Homo sapiens: one gene and its partners. The protein of the gene in region 2 interacts with the protein of the main gene of each other region in a pairwise test. Each region holds a gene or a part of one and is shown on either strand. Other genes may lie near its edges.

Evidence for each region.
Region 1: the proteins of GUCD1 (region 2) and FHL3 interact in binary tests that used the Homo sapiens proteins (3 or more experiments, as listed by UniProt).
Region 3: the proteins of GUCD1 (region 2) and PSMA1 interact in binary tests that used the Homo sapiens proteins (3 or more experiments, as listed by UniProt).
Region 4: the proteins of GUCD1 (region 2) and NDUFAF6 interact in binary tests that used the Homo sapiens proteins (3 or more experiments, as listed by UniProt).
Region 5: the proteins of GUCD1 (region 2) and PTH1R interact in binary tests that used the Homo sapiens proteins (3 or more experiments, as listed by UniProt).
Region 6: the proteins of GUCD1 (region 2) and TSPAN4 interact in binary tests that used the Homo sapiens proteins (3 or more experiments, as listed by UniProt).
Region 7: the proteins of GUCD1 (region 2) and CTH interact in binary tests that used the Homo sapiens proteins (3 or more experiments, as listed by UniProt).

Annotation. Positions count from the first base shown.
Region 1 is NC_000001.11:37,999,393-38,002,514, forward strand, and holds part of FHL3 (four and a half LIM domains protein 3), read right to left. Parts: intron 41-3,122; 5' UTR 21-40; coding exon 1-20. UniProt on the Homo sapiens protein: Recruited by SOX15 to FOXK1 promoters where it acts as a transcriptional coactivator of FOXK1.
Region 2 is NC_000022.11:24,539,938-24,542,538, forward strand, and holds the end of GUCD1 (protein GUCD1), read right to left. Parts: 3' UTR 501-2,601; downstream 1-500.
Region 3 is NC_000011.10:14,507,382-14,510,386, forward strand, and holds part of PSMA1 (proteasome subunit alpha type-1), read right to left. Parts: intron 386-3,005; coding exon 275-385; intron 1-274. UniProt on the Homo sapiens protein: Component of the 20S core proteasome complex involved in the proteolytic degradation of most intracellular proteins. This complex plays numerous essential roles within the cell by associating with different regulatory particles.
Region 4 is NC_000008.11:95,027,989-95,031,488, reverse strand, and holds part of NDUFAF6 (NADH dehydrogenase (ubiquinone) complex I, assembly factor 6 isoform 1 precursor), read right to left. Parts: intron 1-3,500. UniProt on the Homo sapiens protein: Involved in the assembly of mitochondrial NADH:ubiquinone oxidoreductase complex (complex I) at early stages. May play a role in the biogenesis of complex I subunit MT-ND1.
Region 5 is NC_000003.12:46,901,721-46,904,299, reverse strand, and holds the end of PTH1R (parathyroid hormone/parathyroid hormone-related peptide receptor precursor), read right to left. Parts: intron 2,535-2,579; coding exon 2,440-2,534; intron 1,775-2,439; coding exon 1,633-1,774; intron 1,552-1,632; coding exon 1,510-1,551; intron 1,031-1,509; coding exon 644-1,030; 3' UTR 501-643; downstream 1-500.
Region 6 is NC_000011.10:849,352-852,851, reverse strand, and holds part of TSPAN4 (tetraspanin-4), read right to left. Parts: intron 2,997-3,500; exon of another isoform or gene 2,824-2,996; coding exon of another isoform or gene 2,548-2,823; coding exon 2,485-2,547; intron 1-2,484. UniProt on the Homo sapiens protein: Structural component of specialized membrane microdomains known as tetraspanin-enriched microdomains (TERMs), which act as platforms for receptor clustering and signaling.
Region 7 is NC_000001.11:70,437,810-70,440,351, reverse strand, and holds the end of CTH (cystathionine gamma-lyase), read right to left. Parts: intron 1,665-2,542; coding exon 1,526-1,664; intron 1,252-1,525; coding exon 1,225-1,251; 3' UTR 501-1,224; downstream 1-500. UniProt on the Homo sapiens protein: Catalyzes the last step in the trans-sulfuration pathway from L-methionine to L-cysteine in a pyridoxal-5'-phosphate (PLP)-dependent manner, which consists on cleaving the L,L-cystathionine molecule into L-cysteine, ammonia and 2-oxobutanoate.

The DNA of each region.
Region 1 (3,122 bases), on a different chromosome or scaffold from region 2:
CAGTCAAATGACTCGCTCATGGTGGCAAGGGGAGAGAACCCTGTTAGGAGCACAAGGTGGAACTGGGGTCACACAGAGAGGCTGTGGCTTGGCTCCTGGCAAAGAGGCCTCTGCATTCAAAACACAGCCAAGAGACCCGGCATAGGAAATGCCAGTTCAGAGTAGGTGGGGATGGGGAAGGGGTGCTTCTGGGAAACCAGGAATCCCACATGTTTCTTTCTGTATTTAACTCGGGGTAGGAAGAGGTCAGGAAAAAAACCAGGAAGCAGAAGTTGTTTTCTTATCTAGGCCCTAGCAGATCTAGGGGGAGGGGGCTTTTCCTGGGTCAGTGACTCATTTCCTGTCCCAGCCAGCGTCTAGCCTCCACTGTCCCGACTGTCCCCAGCGTGGGAGAAGCAGGGGCAGGGAGCCACCCCACTCTACTCCTTATGAGCAGTACTCCCACCCTCTCCTGACTCCCAGGAAGGGACTTTAGGAATATGGATAAAGGAACCCTTAACCAGAGCTCTGGAGTACAGAACTTAGAGACGGGAATGGGCTGTGCCTGCCCCTCCTGATCCAGAAAACAGTGGAATGCTAGAGAGGTGCTGGACTAATGAATGGTAGAAGAGGCCAGTGTGAGAGGTTGGGCCTTCCCTCCCGGGGAATCAGCCAAGCAATGGGAACTTCAGAGGCTCAGCTTAGGTTCAAGCAGGAAGGAAATCCTGCAAGCTGGACACAGCCAGTCTTCCCTAGCTAGACCCTCTGCCCTCATCCCCCCACCCCCGCTGTGTCACACCAGCTTGGACAGCCTTGGCCTGTAACATCTGCAGCAGCTGTGGCGGCACAGATGGCCAGATGTCAGGTTTTGCCAGCAATGGGGAGAAAAAAGGAAAATGAAGTGTCGGGGGAGGCAGAGGGGAACTGGAGACAGACTGGGAGTGCAGTGTACCCCCTGCCACCTCCTGCTAACATCTGGCAAAACCCCAGGATCTTTCCATCCCCTGGGGTCATGATTTCCCTCCTACTGCCTCTGGGAGAGAAGGTCTCTCCCACCTTTTCCGATTTCTCAGGGTTTGGGACTAGGGAGCTGAAAGGAGAGAGAGCAAGAGCCACTGAAGACATTTTCTCCCCAATCAGGCCCCATCTTGGGTGGGGAGTAGGACAAGGGGGAGCCCTGAGAGCTGCTGCTGGAGACACCCAGCCCCCGACCAAACCTCAGACACTTTCCATTTTCTCAGGAACAAAGCATGTTTGTGGGATGAGGTCATCCACACAGCTGCCTCTGGAACAGGAGCCTAGGGAGTGGAGCGGTAGGGAAGTGGGGTTCCCAGACCTTTCTGCTGCCCCGGATTCCAGTCTCTAGCCCCAAAGTCAGAGCTCCCACCCCTGCTCTCCTCCATCATGAAGGCTGCTCTCTAAGGGCTGGGATCCTGGGGTAGTGGAGAGGAACCACCAGGACCCATAGGAAGGAGATGTTCTCACAGCTGTGGATGAGCCCGGGGAAGTTACAGGGACACACAAAGGAATCCACCAACCCACTCTCCCACAAGGCTCCAGTGCTGGCAGTCGCCAGGGCCTGCCCTGGCTCAAGCTGAAGGAGAAGTCCTCCTTTTCTCATCCACCCCCAGTGCGAAATTCTTGACAACAAGCGCTGCTCTGGCTTGAAGTTCAGACTCCAGGCACCAGCAGATGCCCCCAGCTTGGAGGCCTGACTCTCCATACATCAAGCCTCTGCGCAATGGGAGAACAGCCAGCTTGCGCTCCAGGCCAGGGCATGAGGCCACCAGGGGCCAGGGTCTTTAGAGCTGGAACTCCTGGGCTGGGGGCTATGGTGTAGAGAAGATACTCCTCTTTCTCAGCCCCCTTCCTGCCACTCAGGCCCAGGTTTCCTCTGGCCCAACATCTGAGGATTGCCTGGGCTGTCAGCCACGGGGCAGCAGGGGGCCACACAGGTGGAATGCGTCCACAGGGGGTGCCTGGGCCTCTTCCTTCCTTCTTGGCTTGGCCCACTGCGGCTGCCACCTTCTCAGGCCCAGGCTAGACTTGGGTCCACCCCCTGAGAGACAGTCAGCACTCCGAAACCAGGGCAACCCAAATAGGGTATGGGCATGGCTTCTATTTCCTTCCCAGAATCCCCCAATGCCCTAGTCTATCCAGCTGGGCTCTGGTGAGGACAGAGTAAAGGGCACCAACAAGGCCCACCTGTCTCTGCCCATACCCCTCTCCCTGCCCTTTTCCCTGGCAAGGCTGGGGACTGCGGGGACTGAAGGGAGCCAGCCTTGTATTCCTTCCTGACCGGCAGTGGGGCGGGGTTTGGGGGAGACTGCTCCTCTACAGATGGCTCACAACCCTGCACCTCCAACAATCTCCCCTCACAAGGCACCTCCCAGTGAACCTCCTGGAGCTCAGAATGACTGCGTAACTGGCTATGGTGTATGGAGCAGCTCAAGCTGTAAGGTTTGAATCCTGGCTCCTGCACTTACTGGCTGAGTGATCTTGGGCAAATCCCTAAGCCTGTTTTCCCATCTAATTAAATGAGATACTACCACTTCCTACCTCCTAAGTTTGTTGTCAGGCTTAAATGTGATGATACTTGTAAAGCACCTGGCAGATAATAAATACTCAGAAAATGGTAGCTATTAGTATTTTACTATTAGCGCCCTCACTCATACTGGGGCCAGATAGCAGTTTCACAGGCAGGTCTGGGTCAAGCAGCTGGACTGGAATTTTTTTTTTTTTTTTGAGACAGAGTCTCGCTCTGTCGCCCAGGCTGGGGTACAGTGGCGCAATCTCGGCTCACTGCAACCTCCACCTCCCGGGTTCAAGTGATTCTCCTCCCTCAGCCTCCCGAGTAGCTGGGACTACAGGCACCTGCTACCACGCCCGGCTAATTTTTTGTATTTTTAGTAGAGACGGGGTTTCACTGTGTTAGTCAGGATGGTCTCGAACTCCTGACCTCATGATCTCCCTGCCTCAGCCTCCCAAAGTGCTGGGATTACAGGCATGAACCACCACACCCTGCCTGGACTAGAATTTTTAAATAGAGATGGGGTCTCAATATGCTGCGCAGGCTGGTCTCAAACTCCTGGGCTCAAGCTATCCTCTTGCCTTGGGTTCCCAAAGTGCTGGGATTACAGGCA
Region 2 (2,601 bases):
GCGTGGTCGTGTGTGCCTGTAATCCCAGCTACTCAGGAGACTGAGGCAGGAGAATTGCTTCAACCCAGGAGGTGGAGGTTGGAGTGAGCCGAGATCGCACTACTGCACTCTTGGTCTGTCTACCTCAACCCCAACTCTGCATGCTCTGAGCAGCCAGCTCCACCCAGCACTCACCATCCCACCCACTTTCGTCTCTCCTGCTTCAACATCTCCCTCATTCTGTTGTGTCTCCTGTAGTTGCATTTGTTGCAGTTCACTTGAGCTGAGCCCCGAGGCCCTTCTACCTCTAGTACTGCCTGTCCAGGACAGGCACAAGCATCCAGGCCTGAACGGGATGGATATGGCCCTAGAAAACAGAAAACAGGATTCCAGTCCCAGCTAAACTGGGTATGGCAAGACAAGGACCTGGGTTCCCATGTGCTCATGCTGAGAACTTGAGAAGGGACAGGAATTCTGCAGATCAACACAGCTTCATAAAGGCCAGCCAGGGGCTACCACCATTTTGCAGTGAGAATAATGTTTATTGAGAATGGCTCATTACAAACAAAATATATATAAAATCTCTGCAATGCAAAAGATCCCTTTCATCCCCGTGGCTAGAATGAACAAAGCCCAACTGTCCCACATGGCTTCAGGTGCTGTGCTGGTCCCCAGCATGTGAACAGGCTGGGCAGCTGTCGGTGTCATGTGCTGTGGGCAAAAGTCCCTGATGTCCAGGCTCTCTGGCTCCATTTTCATGACTTGTGCAAGAATGCAACACAGTGTGTCTTACATCCTGCCTCTGTGACCCTCCCTAGGCAGATGAGTCTTGAGAATGGGCAGCTTTCTCATTCATCTTTCAGGAAGGTGACCTTTAACTTGTGGCATGCCCTGAGAAGCCATCCTCTGGGACCAGAGACTGAGTGTTTCTAAACATTTTGGCTGGACTGAGGTGCTGTTACCACCCTCCATGAAGGCCACTCCCTAGTGACAGCCCTAACAGCATGTGCACTGTCTAAATCACATCCCACCATCCTGAAAACTTCATTTCCTCCCACTGGTTTCCTTCATACAGCTATTCTAACAATTTTACCAGAACACCACCTGAAGATGCCCACACCCCACAGCTGCTGTGCATGGGTACTCCTGGGCCACCTGGCATTAAGGCAATGGAGATGAGACCAGTCTAGAGCCAACACCGGTCTCTGAAACCCAGAAGGGCTGCCCAACTAACAGCACCTCCCTCTTGGCCAAAGGCTTTGTCTAGGGTTGAGAAGCAATTTGGCTGGGTGGTCTCACTGCCCTCCTAAACAGAGCCCACCTCTGCCCCCAGAGTCATCTGTGCTCCAAAGCAATGGGCGGGGGCACAGCTGCCACCATGCCATGCCTTGGGCATTGGAAGAGCAGGACCCAGGAGTGCAGGGATGGTATCACTGTTGCCCCTTTGAAAATGACCCATTTCCCACTTTGGGAGGCCGAGGCAGGTGGATCACCTGAGCTCAGGGGTTCGAGACCAGCCTGGCCAACATGGCGAAGCCTGGTCTCTACTAAAAATACAAAAAAATTAGCCGGGCATGGTGGCATGTGCCTGTAGTCCCAGCTAGTGGGGGGCTGAGGCAGGAGGATCGCTTGAACCCAGGAGGCGGAGGTTGTAGTAAGCCAAGATCGTGCCACTGCACTCCAGTCTGGGCAACAGAGTGAGTCTCCGTCTCAAAAAAAAAAAAAAAAATCCATTTCCTTTAGTTTTTTAGGTGCAGACTGGGGTTCAAGACCCAGCTCCACCACTGTCCTGAGCAGACTCCCAAGACTGGGCCAGCTGCCTCGTCAGCTGCCTCGTCTGAGAGGTGAAGGGGCAGGTACTTAAACCACTGGCCAAGTCCCTTTCTCTGAAAAAGAACTTGAGCTGGCTAACTGCCCTGTGCAGAGGTGTTAGTGGTTCCAAAGTACCTTCACTCTTGCTATTACTGTTTTACTTGAAGGTGATTACCCCTCAAAAATGAAAACTTAAATCTCAAAGAAACAACCCCTGACCCCAACCTCCCCAAAAAAGAGGAAGGAAAGAGCTCTATGCTACTTGCTGTGTTGTAAGATCCTGGGCAGGAACCCCTCTTCTCCATCAAGATAGACAAGACCCAGTATCCTGTGCAATCTGGTGTGAAGACCAGGTTGGGTGGGCAGCTGCAGGCTGCCCCAGCCCGTTGCTTTGGAGCACAGGCCTTAGCAGCCAACCTTAAAGGACTAGGGGCTCCCCACACTCAAGAGGGCAGACCCTGCTGTCAGGATTTTGGCTGGTGTCAGGAGGCCTCCTGGGTGCAGGGATCCCTCTGGGGCTAGGGCAGCTGTTTATTCCCAGAGCACTGCTGCCAGCCACGAGGCCTACCAGTGGGATCTAGGCCCGAGAGCCCTCCATCTGACAGAGCTGGAGGACCTGGAGGGCTGTGGGGGCTTTAAGAGTCTCCAGCGGCCAGGGCTCTGCATGGCAGGGCAGCTGTGAGGTGTGTCTATGCTGGGTGGCAGGGGTCAGATGCCCTGTAATGAGCCACAGAAACTTGGGCCCATGGGTAGGCAGGTGGTGGTGGTATCATCAACCACTGGGCACAGGGGCATATGCAGCACTTCCAG
Region 3 (3,005 bases), on a different chromosome or scaffold from region 2:
GGTCTCCATCTGTTGACCTCGTGATTCACCCGCCTCGGCCTCCCAAAGTGCTGGGATTACAGGCATGAGCCACCGCACCCGGCCCCCTTTTTGTGTTTATGGAGATCACTGCCCTTTCAATATTTAACTTTACTCAGTTCTTAATTTTCCTGTTGCCATTTGAATTATGGGCCCATTTCAATATTTAAGACAAAATGGAAAATTTACAGACACAGTTGTGGTAAGAACAGCAGCTTACAATAGAACTAAAGCCTCTTGTGTTATGATTATATACCTGTGCCTTTCTCTGTGGTCTTTCTTCAAGACCTTCCAGGAATGGAGACACATCATCATCATCATAGATTGTAAACTCCAAGTCTTTACCAACAATTCCAATGGAAACATTCTGAAGGGTAAAATATGGTAAAAGTAAAATAAGAGAATTTGGATGAAAAAATACATACGATAAAATATTGGGTGAAAAAAGCAGAATAAGAATTTATATAGCATTTGAATAAAACCTTAAAAACCACTTATGTGTAGGAGAAAAAAGAAGGAAACTAGTGGACCCTTGTCATTTGCAGATTTAATATTAATACTAACTTTTGATTATCATGAGTAACTCCAAAGATCTATGTTATCTAGAAACATTTTTTTAAAAAGATAATGCAGGCTATAAAGTCTTCACATTGATATTAAACAATAATTATCCAATCACCATAACAAAATGGCTTTATAAAACTGACTAATCTCACTTTATTAATGATCATTAACTTCAAGTAGGCCTTAGTGGTTCCTGGATCCCACTATACCCATTTCTACATCATTCATGCTCCCCTTCTTTTAGACACTTCTAACATTCTCCAAGCTCTTTGAAGCTGAAAACCTTGTTCCTATATTACTGCGAAAACAGAAGCAATTAGAAGAGAACTTTCACAAGTTCCCACTGTATCCACTCTTTCCTGTACCTATGTCCCTAGATTCTCTCCTTTCCCATTAAAACTTCCTAAGGCCAACCCTTCCACCTATGTACTATTAAAGGACATTGTTCTAACAATTTTCTCATTATTTTTCCTCATAAATGCTTCCCTAAATTTACTTGGATTACTCTCACAATCATGCAGCAAATGTGATGTAATTTCTTCCATCTTAAAAAACAAAACAATTTATTTCTCTCCTCTTCCAGTCACCACTCCATCTCAAAAAAAAAAAAAAAACCCAGATTGTAGGGGTAAATAGATAGTGGGGCTATGGGTAGAAATAGTTTTAAGGCTATTCAGGTAATTCATGTGAGAGATGATAGCGATTGGAGCAGAGTGACAGAGTGACCGTCAACAGAAATATCCTCCAAAAAGCTATCTGCAATTCCTCGTCTCCCATTCTCTCCTGATTCCACTATCAGGTTTTTGCCTTATTATTCCATTAAGCCTGTTTTGTCAGGTCCTCAGTGACAACTTCATTGCCCCTCCTCCTTGAAAGTTTATTCGTTTGCCTCCAAAGATGCCTCATTTTCCAAGTTTTCCTCCTACTTCTTTGACCACCTCTCTCAGTCTTTTTTGCCAACACCTAACTCATCTCCCAGTTGCTAAAGGTTAGTGTTCTTGGTCCAGTCCTCACAATGCTTGTCTAACTATTCAATTCCTTTAGGAATCTCTTCCAGTCCAGACTCTAAATGCCATTTCTATATAAAGACTTCAAAAATTTGAAATGTAGGTTGGACCACTCTCCATGGAACTCCACGTGTTGCTTATAACTGCTTACTCTGTACCGTCAATTAGACAAAAAGGCATTTCAAATTTTACATGTCCGCAACTGACTGCCTGACCTTCCTCCCCAACGCCTACTCTAAAACCTGTTCCTCCCACTATCTTCTTCACCTCAGTAAATCATAAATCTTTCATTCCAATTAATTAGGCCCAAAACCTTGGAGACATTCCCCCCTCACACCCTATAACAAATCTATTAGCAAACTTTTTTGGCTGTAATTTCAAAAGATATCCAAAATTGAACCACTACTCTTCATCTTTAACTCTGTCACTCTGCTGCAATCACTATCATCTCTCACATAATTACCTGAATAGCCTTAAAACTATTTCTACCCATAGCCCCACTATCTATCTACCCCTACAATCTGTTTTTTTTTTTTTTGAGATGGAGTTTTGCTTTGTCACCCAGGCTGGAGTGCATGCACCGCCACGCCCGGCTGATTTTTGTATTTTTAATAGAGACAGGGTTTCATCGTGTTGGCCAGGCTGGTCTCGAACTCCTGATCTCAAGTGATCCACTCACCTCAGCCTCCCAAAGTGTTGGGATTACAGGCGTGAGCCACTGCGGCTGGCCCACAAACCGGTTGTTTTTTTTTTTTTTTTTTTGAGACGGAGTCTCGCTCTGTCGCCCAGGCTGGACAGGCTGGAGTGCAGTGGCGCAATCTCAGCTCACTGCAAGCTCCACCTCCCAGGTTCACGCCATTCTCCTGCCTCAGCCTCCCGAGTAGCTGGGACTACAGGCGCCTGCCACCAAGCCCGGCTAATTTTTTGTATTTTTAGTAGAGATGGGGTTTCACCGTGTTAGCCAGGATAGTCTTGATCTCCTGACCTCGTGATCCACCTGCCTTGGTCTCCCAAAGTGCTGGGATTACAGGCGTGAGCCACCGCGCCCAGCCTCAATCTGTCGTTAAAATGCCAAACAGAGTGACTGTTTTAAAACCTAAACCAAATCATGGTATTCCTCTGCTCAAACTCTTAACAGCCCACCCAGAGTAAAATGCAGAGTAACCACAATGGCTTATGGGACCTCCATTACCTCTCTGATTTCTTCCCTTTTCCTCTTCCTCTCGATGATTGACCTCAACACTACTGGCCTCCTTGCCTTAAATACTAGGGCCTTTGCATTTGTATTTCCTAGAATAATTTTGCTCTAGATCTGCATAGCTCATACTCACTTACCTCCTTTATATCTTTTCCTCAAATTTCATTTTCTTGGTGAGAATATCCTCAACCACCTATTTTAAATTACACCTACCTACA
Region 4 (3,500 bases), on a different chromosome or scaffold from region 2:
TTATGTAGTACTTATAATTTTAACTGTTTCAGAATCACTTTTGTTTTAGTAAGAATTCAAATGAGCTTCAAAAGAATAAATCAAGTTAAAATAGTTCAAGCAAATATTGGGGTGAATGTATGGTTTTTAAGACATATAGACAGATATACAGAAAGGCAGAGATAAGACATAGAAATTCATGTAGGACTGTGTGCACACATACGTTTCCTTGCAGCACCTGCTGAAAGAGCCTAGAAGTAATAATGCCCCCAGCCCCCACCCCACATTCCCGGTATTGGTGAACACACCTAGCACCCAGATCTTGGTTTCTGAAACCATTCTCCACTGAAAGAAACTAGGGCTCTGATATCTGGATATTTGTCTCCTCCAAATCTCATGTTGAAATGTGACCCCCACAATGTTGGAGGTGGGGCCTAGTGGGAGGTATTTGGGTCACAGGGGTGGATCCCTCATGAATGGTTTGGTGCCATCCCCTTGGGGATAAGTGAGTGTATTAGTTCACGCTACAGCTGGTTGCTTAAAAGAGCCTGGCACCTCCTCCCTTCTCTCTTTTGCTTCCTCTCTTGCCATGTGATACACCTGCTCCCCTTCGTCTTCTGCCACAAGTAAAAGCTTCCTGAGGCCTTGCCAGAAGCTGAGCAGATACTGGTGCCATGCTTCTTGCACAGCCTGCAGAACCATGAGTCAAAGAAACCTCTTTTCTTTACAAATTACCAAGTCTCAGATATTCCTTTATAACAATGCAAAACAGACTAACACAGGCTCCTGGAAGGAATAACTGACTCCATTCCTAGGGCAGGGAAAATACAAGATAAGTCTGAAACATTTTCTTGAGCAAAAAGTAAAGAAATGTTTAAAGGATGGAGGAAACTTCTCAAAAGAACACAGAAACTGGCTTGACAGAGTTCTCACTGGCCAAGTCCACAGCAATTTCAGGATCAAAAAATAATGACAGGGCCCAGCATGGTGGCTCATGCCTATAATCTAGCACTGTGGGAGGCAGAGCAGGGAGGATGGCTTGAGGTCAGGAGTTCAAGACCAGCCTGGACAACACAGTGAGACACTGTCTTTACAAAAAACTTAAAAAATAAAAAAATTAGCTGGGCATGGTGGCATGGGCCTGTGGTCCTAGCTACTTAGGAAGCTGAGGTGGGAGGATTACTTGAGCCCAGGAGTTCAAGGTTACAGTGAGCTATGATCATGCCACTGCACTCTAGTCTGGGTAACAGGAGATCCTGTCTCTAAAATAAATAAATAAATAAATAAATAAATAATAGTAACAATTTGAAACAGGACTCTATGAGCTTGTACCAATAAAAATTAATAAATAGGAAGAGAAGGAAAAGCTTGACAACCAATACAATGCCTACTACTAAATTTAGAAGACATGATGGAATTTTTAAAAATCACCATTTGATAACTATCATAGTATTAACTGATTCAGATAAAAATCATCAATAAATGCCTGAAAATGTTAAAGGGGTAAAAGTTTGATGGAAAAAGAATACTTACATAGTACTGAAGTATCTCCCCACGAAGTAAGTATGCACTTCTTGCTTATAATTAACATTCTTAATTAAATTTACAAAAAAAAAATCTGGAAGTCACCTTTTCAACCACGTAGTAAGAGGTTAACATCATAATAATAGGACAAATCAATGTCATGTGCTGCCTGATATGATATGGAGAGAAAAGCTGAGTGTCCCTTCTGTGATATTCCTGCCAAAAATGCATGTCAAGAGAAAATATTAAAAACCCAAATCAAAGGAGATTTCTACAAAGTAACTGGCCTATTCTCTTCAAAAAATATCAAGCTCATGAAAGATAAGATGTGAGGAATTGTTCCAGATTGGAGAAGACTAGAGAGATATAACTACATGTAGCACATGATTTTGGATGTATGAAAGACATAATAAGATAATCAGCAAAATTTGAATGGGGCCTGTGGATTAAATGGTAATACTGGATCAATTTTAATTTCCTGATTTTGATGGCTGTACTGTGATTCTACGGGAAAGCGTCCTTGTACTTACAATATACAGACCAAAGTATTAAGGGCAGTTAATGAAGTATCATGTCTGCATCTTATCCTTAAATGTTTCAGAGTGTTAAAAAATGAGGGAATCTGCTAAAGAGTATATTGGCTCTCTGTGTACTATTTCTGTAATTTTTATGTAAATTTACAATTACTTGAAAATAAAATGTTATGAACATATAGACCTTACCATATTCACTCCAGGAAAGATGACTTAAGTATAAGGTACTTACCTACTTTAATACATTGGAACCTTCTTATAAAACAATATTTAATATGAGTCTAACCTGGGCCTCATCCCATAGAGTTTAGGTACTAAAATTCAGATTTCTCCCACTTTTCAACTGGTTCACACTTTGTCATGTTCCTAACAGAGAACTTAAACTGCTTCTAGCCATTCCCTTGACAGTCTCCTCCAATTGCCACATAAACCAAAAGAAGAGGTCACAAACAGTAACCTTGCTATCTCAAGAGTACTGCTAAAAAGATCTCACCCTAAGCAGTTTCACCTTTGGGGAACAAAATGGTTCCCCAAAAGTTTCTAAGGACAGCGAAGGCAAAGCAGCTCTATAGTTGACATTTTTTAAATTGTATTTTGCCATAAAAAGTCTCCAAACTTCAGAAGTGTTTAAAACACTTGAAGTTAACATGAAACAGTGAGAAAAACACTGAATGGGAATCAAACTACAATCTTAACTTCCATCACCGAACTGGTTATTAATAGAAATGACACCAATCACTCCTGTCTATTTCCCAATTTGCAAATGAAGCTTAATAACCTACCAAGGTTATCTTCTAAAAAAAAGCAGTATGTGAAGTACTTCAAGCTTCTTAGAGGGAAATGAAAAATGAAATGAAGACATAATAGAACTGTAGTAACATTTGGAAAATAAAGTCTTCCACACAGCCAAGGATCTGCCGTATTAAATATATTTTTAAATTTTGGATGGAAATTTTTCTAAACAATATTACCCCCTTCACCACATTAAACATGATATACTGATTATTTAGCCATTTCTTCATCACTTAGGATCATCGTTATAAATGTGAATTATTGAACTATGGATATACAAGAATGTCCTAAGCATCTAACCAAGATCCAGTTACCTGAGATTATCCAGTCCCAGATAATGAGAAATGCCATATTACGGATGTATATATAACAGCTTTATATGGCAATAGGGCAAATAACCTCTCATTCATTCTAACATCTATGCAGTGCCTACTATGTGCCAGGCACTGTTCCAGACACTGAAGATGGGTACTGACTTCGATTGAGTTGAGAGAGACAGACATATAAGAAACAAGCACACGGGGTATTAGGATTGTTGTGTGTTAGTACCATGGACCTGTGCCACTGAGGCACAAAGGAAGTGATTCCCTGGTGAGATTGCAGCAAAGTAAAGAACATTAGTGCACTCCAACACCACCAGTAGTACCTCCTCACCTTCTCACTACAGCCTGA
Region 5 (2,579 bases), on a different chromosome or scaffold from region 2:
GTCACAGAGGCATGTCAGGTCACGGGTGGATGCTAAGGCTCCTGCGTGGAGGGCTCCCTGAGTGGCCACTGGACAGCCAGGAAAGGTCCATTCTGTGGCAGGGCCGTAGGCTTGGGGGTGTGGCCAGGGACCCGAGGGATCTGCCAGCAGCCCTGGGTGGCAGTGATGGGGGCAGCAGTCAGAAGAGTTGGCCCAGAGGAGCCTGGGTCCCCCATGGGGTCTAGGTACAAGTGTGGAGAGCAGCTCCACAGCTGGCAGCAACGGAGGCTGAGGCTGGATTTCCACATGGGTCCACTTGGCTGCTGTGTGACCCCTGCAGACTTGAGCCACTCTGGGCCCTTTCTGCTGGATACCACAGGCCCCAGATCCCTCCCCATTCTGAAGTGAGACCTGAGGATTCCTCCATGACTCATGGCCCTCCCGCCACAGCTTTCCCTGGCTCCCAGCCCCACCCTCTCGGAGTGAGTCCCCAGTTTGGGCCACAGGAAGCCACACACCGCTTCCTTTTCCTTTTTCTTTTTTTTTTCTTTTTTTCCCTGTTTTTCCTCTTGGCCCCAGCCCTGAGTGGGAAATCATTCAACCACCCATCTTTTGGTCCATCTGTCCATCCACTATGTCAGCAGGTCCAGCCCCCAGCGCCTGGTCACATGACTGTCTCCCACTCTTCCTGTAGCAGGGCAGGTGGCCGCTCAGGCCCAGAGGCCTCCTCGTCCAGGCCTGAGCAGGAGCCGTTGAGGAACCCATCGTCCTTGGGAGCAGCCATGGCAGGTGGTGTGGTCTCGAGGGTCTCCAGGGCTGGGGTCCCTGGCTTGGCATGGCCAGGCAGCTGAGGGTGGCCGTTGGTGGTGGCAGTGGGCAGTAGGCGGGGGCTGAGGGGCAGGCCGAGTCCCACACGGGGGCCGACATTGGTCACACTTGTGTGGGACACCATGGGGCCGTAGCTATAGCTGCTGCTCCCGCTGCGTGCCTTTCGCTTGAAGTCCAGTGCCAGTGTCCAGCGGCTCCAAGATTTCTTGATCTCAGCTTGTACCTTGGGGCAGTAAGGGTGCGGCAGTCAGGTGTGTCTCCCAACCCCAGCGATGCCCCATCCCGGCCCCTGGACACCCAGCACGGAATGAAAATGGGAATAGGGGACTCCTGGGAAACTCCAAGGCCAAGTGAAATCCCATCCTCACAACAGGGTGTTTGGCTACAGGCAGCCGACACACCCAGAATCTACAAGGCTCAAATTGCCCCAAAGGTGGCTGAGTCCTCCAATCTGGGTCACAGATAATTGAACCATGGGGCTGGGAAGACACTTGGCTATGCCAGTGACTGAAGAGTCCCCACATCCTAGCACATCCTGAACCTGCATCATCTGGAAAGACTTCTCTGCTTTCAGAATGTCCTCAGGGGTGTTCTTGGAGGAACAAAGAAATAACAGGGTGGAAGAATGGAGAAATGAGCCTTGAGGAAGCCTCTGGGGTATCTGCCCCACCCTGCCCTATGCCAACACTGTCTCCTGCTTACCTCGCCATTGCAGAAACAGTATATGATTGCGACAAAAAATCCCTGTGAAGAGGGGTGTCTCGAATCAGGCCTGCCCCCGGAACCCCTCCCACCCTCAGCCAGGCCCGGGCCAGCACTGCGCACCTGGAAGGAGTTGAAGAGCATCTCATAGTGCATCTGGACTTGCCAGAGCGTCCCTGAGACCTCGGTGTATGGTGTGGCCATGAAGACAATGTAGTGGACGCCAAAGAGGGGCATGAGCACCAGCGTGGATTTGAGCAGCTTCCTGGGCCAGCGGGGCAGGTAGGTCAGGGCCAAGCCACTTCCCCTTCAACAAGCATTGTGCCACCCCCCACCCTGCGAGCCCCAGGCTCCGGAAGCTCAAAGGGGCCCAGGGCTCCAGTCACCATGGGAGGACAACCCAGTTCACCTGCATGGCTGCTGTCCTGGCTAAGTGCTAATAGGGCCCGTTGGTTCTCAGCGGTGTCCCGGAGCGGACTTCAAATGACAGTCCCCCTGTCCCTGGGCCCTTCGCACCTGTGGAGCCCTCAGCTGGCAAGCACTCCCCTCCACGGTCGAACCTCACTATCCCACAGTCCGCTCCTCAGGTTTCAGCTGAGCTGCAGCCTTCCCGGGGCCACTCACCGCCTACCTGTTCCTCAGACCCCCTGCAACCAACTCTTTGAGGAGAGGTTCAAGTTCGTTGCACACTCACAGACTCCAGCTCTAGTGCAGGGCCTGGTACAAGTGGGCAGGCTGGCTTTGGGGTGCCCTAGGGCCTCCCATCACTGCTGGGCAGGCCAGGTGGGTGAGGACAGCCAGGGAGTCAGACGCTGGGTCCTTTCCCTTGCCCCAGGATCATTCATGGGGCCACTGTCTTTCCTGGGGTACATGGTACCAGGACTCAGGGACCCCTGAGGAGCCAGGGCATGGCAGGCATGGTGGGCTCACCGGTACTGCTGCCGTGTGTCACACCGGCCGGCGTTGGTCTCCCGCAGCTTGGTGGCGAGCACCCGGACGATATTGATGAAGAGGATGAAGTTGAGCTGTGGGAGTGAGGGGGCTGCGTCTGGAGGCTGCACCCTAGTGGG
Region 6 (3,500 bases), on a different chromosome or scaffold from region 2:
CTCCCACCACCTTAACCCCTGAACTTCGCCCCTGAGAAGACGGAGGAGGAGGAGGAGGAGGCCAGGTTGTATCCCCTGGTCTCCCAACGAGTAGGAAATGGAGTGGGCGGCAAAAGCCCCGACAACAGGGGGCTGGCACCCCCAAAAGGAAAGGAGCCCTGGGGAAGGGGAGCGCTAGGCCTGACTCCTGAAATAGCCTCACGCCAGGAGGAGAGGGCTTAGCTCACAGTGACTCAGGGCACAGCAGGCGTGGACATCAGCCCGGGACAGACTCTCCTGGCAAAACCCCCACTCATTCTTATTTCCCCTGCCCCGCCCCCACCCTTAGACCCCCACTGGGCACCAGCCCAGGGTTGGGGGGGGCCAAGGCTGGTGTATGAAGCCAGCGGGGCTCCAGTTTGCTGGACTGGCGGGAAGGTGGTGATTGATTAATAAAAAATAATTGGGGCCGCCTGTAATCCCAGCACTTTGGGAGGTCGAGGCAGGCGGATCACGAGGTCAGGAGTTCGAGACCAACCTGACCAACATGGTGAAACCCTGTCTCTACTAAAAATACAAAAATTAGACAGGCGTGGTGATGCGCGCCTGTAATCCCAGCAATTCGGGAAGCTGAGGCATGAGAATCGCTTGAACCCCAGAGATGGAAGGTTGCAGTGAGCCAAGATCACGCCACTGCACTCCAGGCGACAGAGCAAGACTCTATCTCAAAAAACAAAGATAAAAAAGAGAGAATTGCATTTTCCAGCCCAGAATAGGGTCCCAAGGGGGTTCCTTGTGTGTTCTTTCCCAGGTTGAGGATGGGGGAGTGTGTCTGCCATGCGGTAGGAATGGAGGCTTCTCTGGGGTTCACAGAGCAAAGAGAGGTCCACCTGGGGGTCCTCCATGAGGGCGGGCTGCTCTCAGAGCAGAGAGACCCCCCCTGGGAAAGGACCCTCTTCTTTCTCCCTGAAGGCAGGTGTCCAGGCCACGGAGGACAGGAGGAGGGTGGAGAGGAGAGAGGGCTTCCCCTCCCAGGACCTGCCTGCCTGCCTGCCGGGCCCCCACACCCACTGCCCTTCAGTCATTCTGCCCCGTCCCCCCGTCACAGAAACACTCTGGTCACTCAGCCACCTGCAGCCCACCCCCCACACCCACCAGCTCCAGACCACACCCACACCTCCCACCACCCCTACCTCCAAGGCGCCCCTCAGGCCTGGGCCTCACCCCTCCAGAGCCTCTTGCAGAAAACAAACCCTTGGGTGACCCCTTCTGGAGGTGGATGTCTGGGCCAAGAGCCTCCTTGGGTCACACTCAGCAGGCAACCCAGGCTGGCTGTCCCTCCCAGGGACCCCCCTGCCTCCACCCCAAGCTGGCTAGAGAAGGAGCCTGGGCTCAGGAGGGGAGAGGTGGGAAGGCAGACCCAGGCTTCTGGGCACTTGGCCCAGCTGGACCTTATGCAGATGGACAGCCTCCTTCTGAAGCCCAGAGCCTAGGCAGGAGCTGAGGCCACACCCCCGACTCCCAGCTGCAGGAGCTGGTTCAGGAATTAAGAATAGGGCACAGAATGACCTTGGTATCACTTCACCTCCCCCAGCCCAGCCAGCAAAGCCCCAGGCCCGGTCCAGGTCATCCTCGGCCACCCCCAACTGCAGCTGCCCTCCACAGGAGCCAGGGACAGGACAGGGTCGCGGCTCCATGAGGCTTGCTCCAACCTGGCCAGGTGGGAATCCTGCCCCACCTCTTGCTGACATGGGGCTGGGGTGGGGTGGAACCCTGTCCGCCCTCTACCTCAGCTCTGCTCCATCCAGCACACAGGGCCCCCCCGGACACCACTGCAGGTCTGAGCACACCTGACCCCACCTCCGCAAAAGTTAGGGAAGCCTCTGCTGCCGGAGGCGCGGGAAAGCCAGTGTCTCCCGCGAACACTGATGGCCCACGGCCCTGCTCAGTGTCCAGGATTCCCTTCCGCAGCGCCTCCCGGCGACTGGGGGACCTTGGCGGCAGCCGGCTCAAACCCTCGGAAGTGAGTCCCTGGGCCCGACAGGTCGCCTGCCTGGAGGGGCGGGGCCGAGGCAAGGATAACGGCTGCACCGAGGAGGGAGCGGGCGCAGAGGAGGCACCGGGGCCCCGCGCAAAACTGGCCACGACCCGGACTCGAACCCCGACCCTAGGAGAGGCGCAGTGCCCGGGTGGCCCTGTCCGGCGCGCACGTGTGCAACGTGTCCCGTCTCATCAAGTGAGGAGAGGAGAGGAGAGGAGAGGGGACCAGGGCGTGGGGCAGCCGCTCTGAGTGCAGGGGGCGGACCCCGCGATGGTGCAAACCTTCCCCACCCGCCCAGTCCAGGCTCCTAGCCGGAGCAGCGGTCTTGGGTCCTCCCGGGACCATCCCCACAACCGCACCCAACGCCTGGCCGGGGCAGCGACTCCGACTCCCCAGACCCCGCGACCCGCCGCGGGAGGGACCCCGGGTCTTTCCCGGGCCCCCACCCCGGCCCCCGGACTCACCCAGAAGAGCAGGTTGAAGGCGAACATGAGGTACTTGACGGCCTGGAGGCAGGCGCGCGCCATGCCGCAGCGCTTCAGTTCTAGGAGGAAGATGAAGGAGAGGTCCAGGTAGAAAACCACGTACTTGTTGCCCTTGGGCGACGTGTAGCGCGCCTGGGCCGCCTTGGGGCCGGGGTTCGCGTGCAGGCCGAAGAAGGAGCCCCCGGCGTCCCCGCCGCCCGCGCGCCCGTATAGGCTGCTGTAGCGCCGGAAGGGGCCGCCGCGCGCGAAGTCCGGCTCCTTGCCCTCCGGAGAGGGGCTGCGCCGGTACGTGGACTCGTCCGTGCTGGAGCGGCGCATCGCGCCCGGGTGTGCCGGGGCCGCCGCTCAGCGCCCCGCACCCGCCGCCCCGGAACGCCCCATCCCGCCGGCCGGCGCCTGCTCCGGCCCCGCTCCTGCTCCCGCTCTGGCCCCCGCGGTGGCAGCGGGTCGCGCGGATCCGCTCGGACCCCGGCGGCGGAACCCAAACATCTGCCCGGCCCGCGCGCTGCGGCCCCCGCGCCCCCGACCCCGCGCGCCCCGCCCCGCGCCCTCCCGGCCAATCCCCGGCGGCTCCGCCCCCGCGCGGACCCCTCCCCTCCTCGCCGCACCGCCCGGCAAACCCCAGCGCTCCGCCTGGGCGGACCAATCGCAGCCCCCGGCAACGCACCAGCCGCGACCCCGGCCCCTTCGCCCGCGCCGGCGCCCCAGCCCCCCCACCTTCGCGCGCGGGAGGAAGATGCTCGCGAAGGGCGCCTGAGGGGACTGGAGGCCGGGGCCGGGGCCTGGGGATGAAACCTGGGCAGCTCTTAGCCCGCGACCGACACCCCCAGCCCTTCCCCCCACGGTACCTCGCCCGGACTCTGGCCCCGGGCCGGGCTTGGAGACCTCCAACCACGAGAACGATACTCAAAGCACTACGCAAATGGAGGGTGACCCCGTTGCTGTCTGGTGGCAACTTGAAGCGGCTCCGCCCCGGGCGCCCTTGGGGAAGCCCT
Region 7 (2,542 bases), on a different chromosome or scaffold from region 2:
GCCAGTGCAGTCTGGAACTCCTAGGCTCAAGGAGATCCTCCACCTCAGCTGTCCAAGTAGCTAGGACTACAAGGACGTACCACCAGGCCCAAAAGATTCTATTTTTAAACATACCTTCTTTTATTCTCAACAAATGCACTATTTCAGATAAAAATATAAAAAGTACTATTTATCTGTAAAACGGTGGCCTTTAACCTACCTTGGATAGGATTTATAACTAATCTGCAAACACTAAGATTTGGGAATAATATTTATTTAATTGAATTTATAAAAATTAACATAAAAGGCTAAGACCTCTAAGAGCAGTAGTTGGGAATTAAAAGGACCCAGGAATATAGGTTAATGTCACATAATGTAGGAATATCACAATGGGATGCATTTGATAATTAGATTTTTTTTTTTTTTGAGACGGAGTCTCGCTCTGTCACCCAGGCTGGAGTGCAGTGGCACGATCTCGGCTCACTGCAAGCTCCTCCTCCTGGTTTCACGCCATTCTCCTGCCTCAGCCTCCCAAGTAGCTGGGACTACAGGCACCCGCCACCACGTCCGTCTAATTTTTTTTGCATTTTTAGTAGAGATGGGGGTTTCACTGCGCTAGCCAGGATGGTCTCAATCTCCTGACCTCGTGATCCGCCCGCCTTATCCTCCAAAAGTGCTGGCATTACATGCGTGAGCCACCGCGCCCAGCTGATTTATTTTTTTAAAAATATTAAGTATAGTCTTAAATCAGTAGAATTTCACAGTAAACTTTTCAAGTATTTGATTTTCGGCTTATGGTAACTAAGTGTAAACCATTGCTTTTAATGTTCTTTTCAATGATATGCAAAAAAATCACACTTGATTTAAGAACATTCGTTTAAATTTAAATTCTTCACAAAACATCAAAAATGAATTACCATTATATTATAAACATGATCAAAATAAATCTTAGACATGAAAAAAGAACATAATCTCCCAAAGTAGCACAAATCTCACCTCCTTCAGAGGCAAACATAGAGCAAAATTAACAAAAAGATATTAACAGAATTGACCTGTAATTATAACATGACATACAGAAAACTTTTTAACAGAGATGATCCCTAAGAAAATTACAGTTATGAAAGATAATGAGGTGCCTTAAAATTTCCGCTTGAAAATTTTGCAAAGGCTCATTGTTGGTCCATTTAATTACTCAGGAAGATTTGATCTTCACAGGAAGCAGCTTCTAATAGCAGCTCTGGAATACTAGCTGTGACTTCCACTTGGAGGGTGCTATAATAACAGTGCACAAGAAAAATATGTTATTAAACATATAGGCCATAGCTTCAACTCCTCAAGAAGTCCTTTTTCTGAATACTACCATCCTTTAAATATGCACTTTGACTGAGCTCCCTATACGTTTATTTATACACCTGGTCTATTACAGGAACAGAAAAGCTTTAGAGTTCACAGTGAGACCACACTTTGTAAATATAGTGACCCCCCATGCCCAAGATAAAGCAGACACACACACACACACACACACACACACAATAATAAGACTTACTGCTGCCTTCAAAGCTTGATCTAGATCTTCCAGTAGGTCTTCCTCATCCTCTAAGCCCACAGAAAGTCGAATCAGTGTGTCACTAATTCCAAGGACATCTCTGTCATTCTTAAGAACTGATGCATGAGTCATGATTGCCCTGAAAGAAGACATGAGCAAATTTTTGATCACTATATTGTGTCAGTGGAGGCATGTTTCTGTCTCATAAACTGCAATTACCCTCAACATTTTTCTGGTCCAAATATCAAATTTTGCATACCCCTATAATTCACAGGCAAAAAAAGAGAAAATTACGAAACTTATCTCTTCTAGCTATGATTTTAAATGAAAAGCAAGATTGTTTTTATCCTGTTTATACCATTGGTAAGATATGCTCAATCCAAATACTGAAAGTGTGTGTCAAGTACCCCCATGCAGTAGGGTAAGGCATAGCCTCCCCAATGTGTATATTTTAATACCTGCCTAAATGAAGTTTGGCCAGAAATCATGTACTCCATGACCAACCTACTGGATTGCTACTTATAAGAGGTCTCTTGGACCAAGAGCCTGTCATAATTAGTTTCCTCTGAATCAATCCAGAGCTAGACCTTCTGAGGCACATCGGAGAAAGATGACCAAGAATCACTAGTAGCAACCAGTAAGCATTCAGAATTCCACAATATAACTCCTGGCATAGAGGCCTGGAAGGATTTTTCAAACGATCTAGCAGCCCATTACCATCATCAACAGATGTAAAGGAAAACCACCCATAATATGTCAAGCACTGCAGTAAAAATTGGGAAACCAAGAAGAATGAGATATTTTCTTTAACCTAAATAACAAAGCAGGAGGTAAAAGCGATGACAATTCACAAAACAAAATAGTCTATATAAACAATGCCAAACAAGTATAGACAAAAAGACTGCCAAGTTCCAGGGAAGGAGAAATTTCTGTGAAGAATAATGGAGGAGAGGTTTAGCATCTTACTTAACCCCAGTATGTGTATTACAACCAACACTCTTCCTTTCCCTGCACACC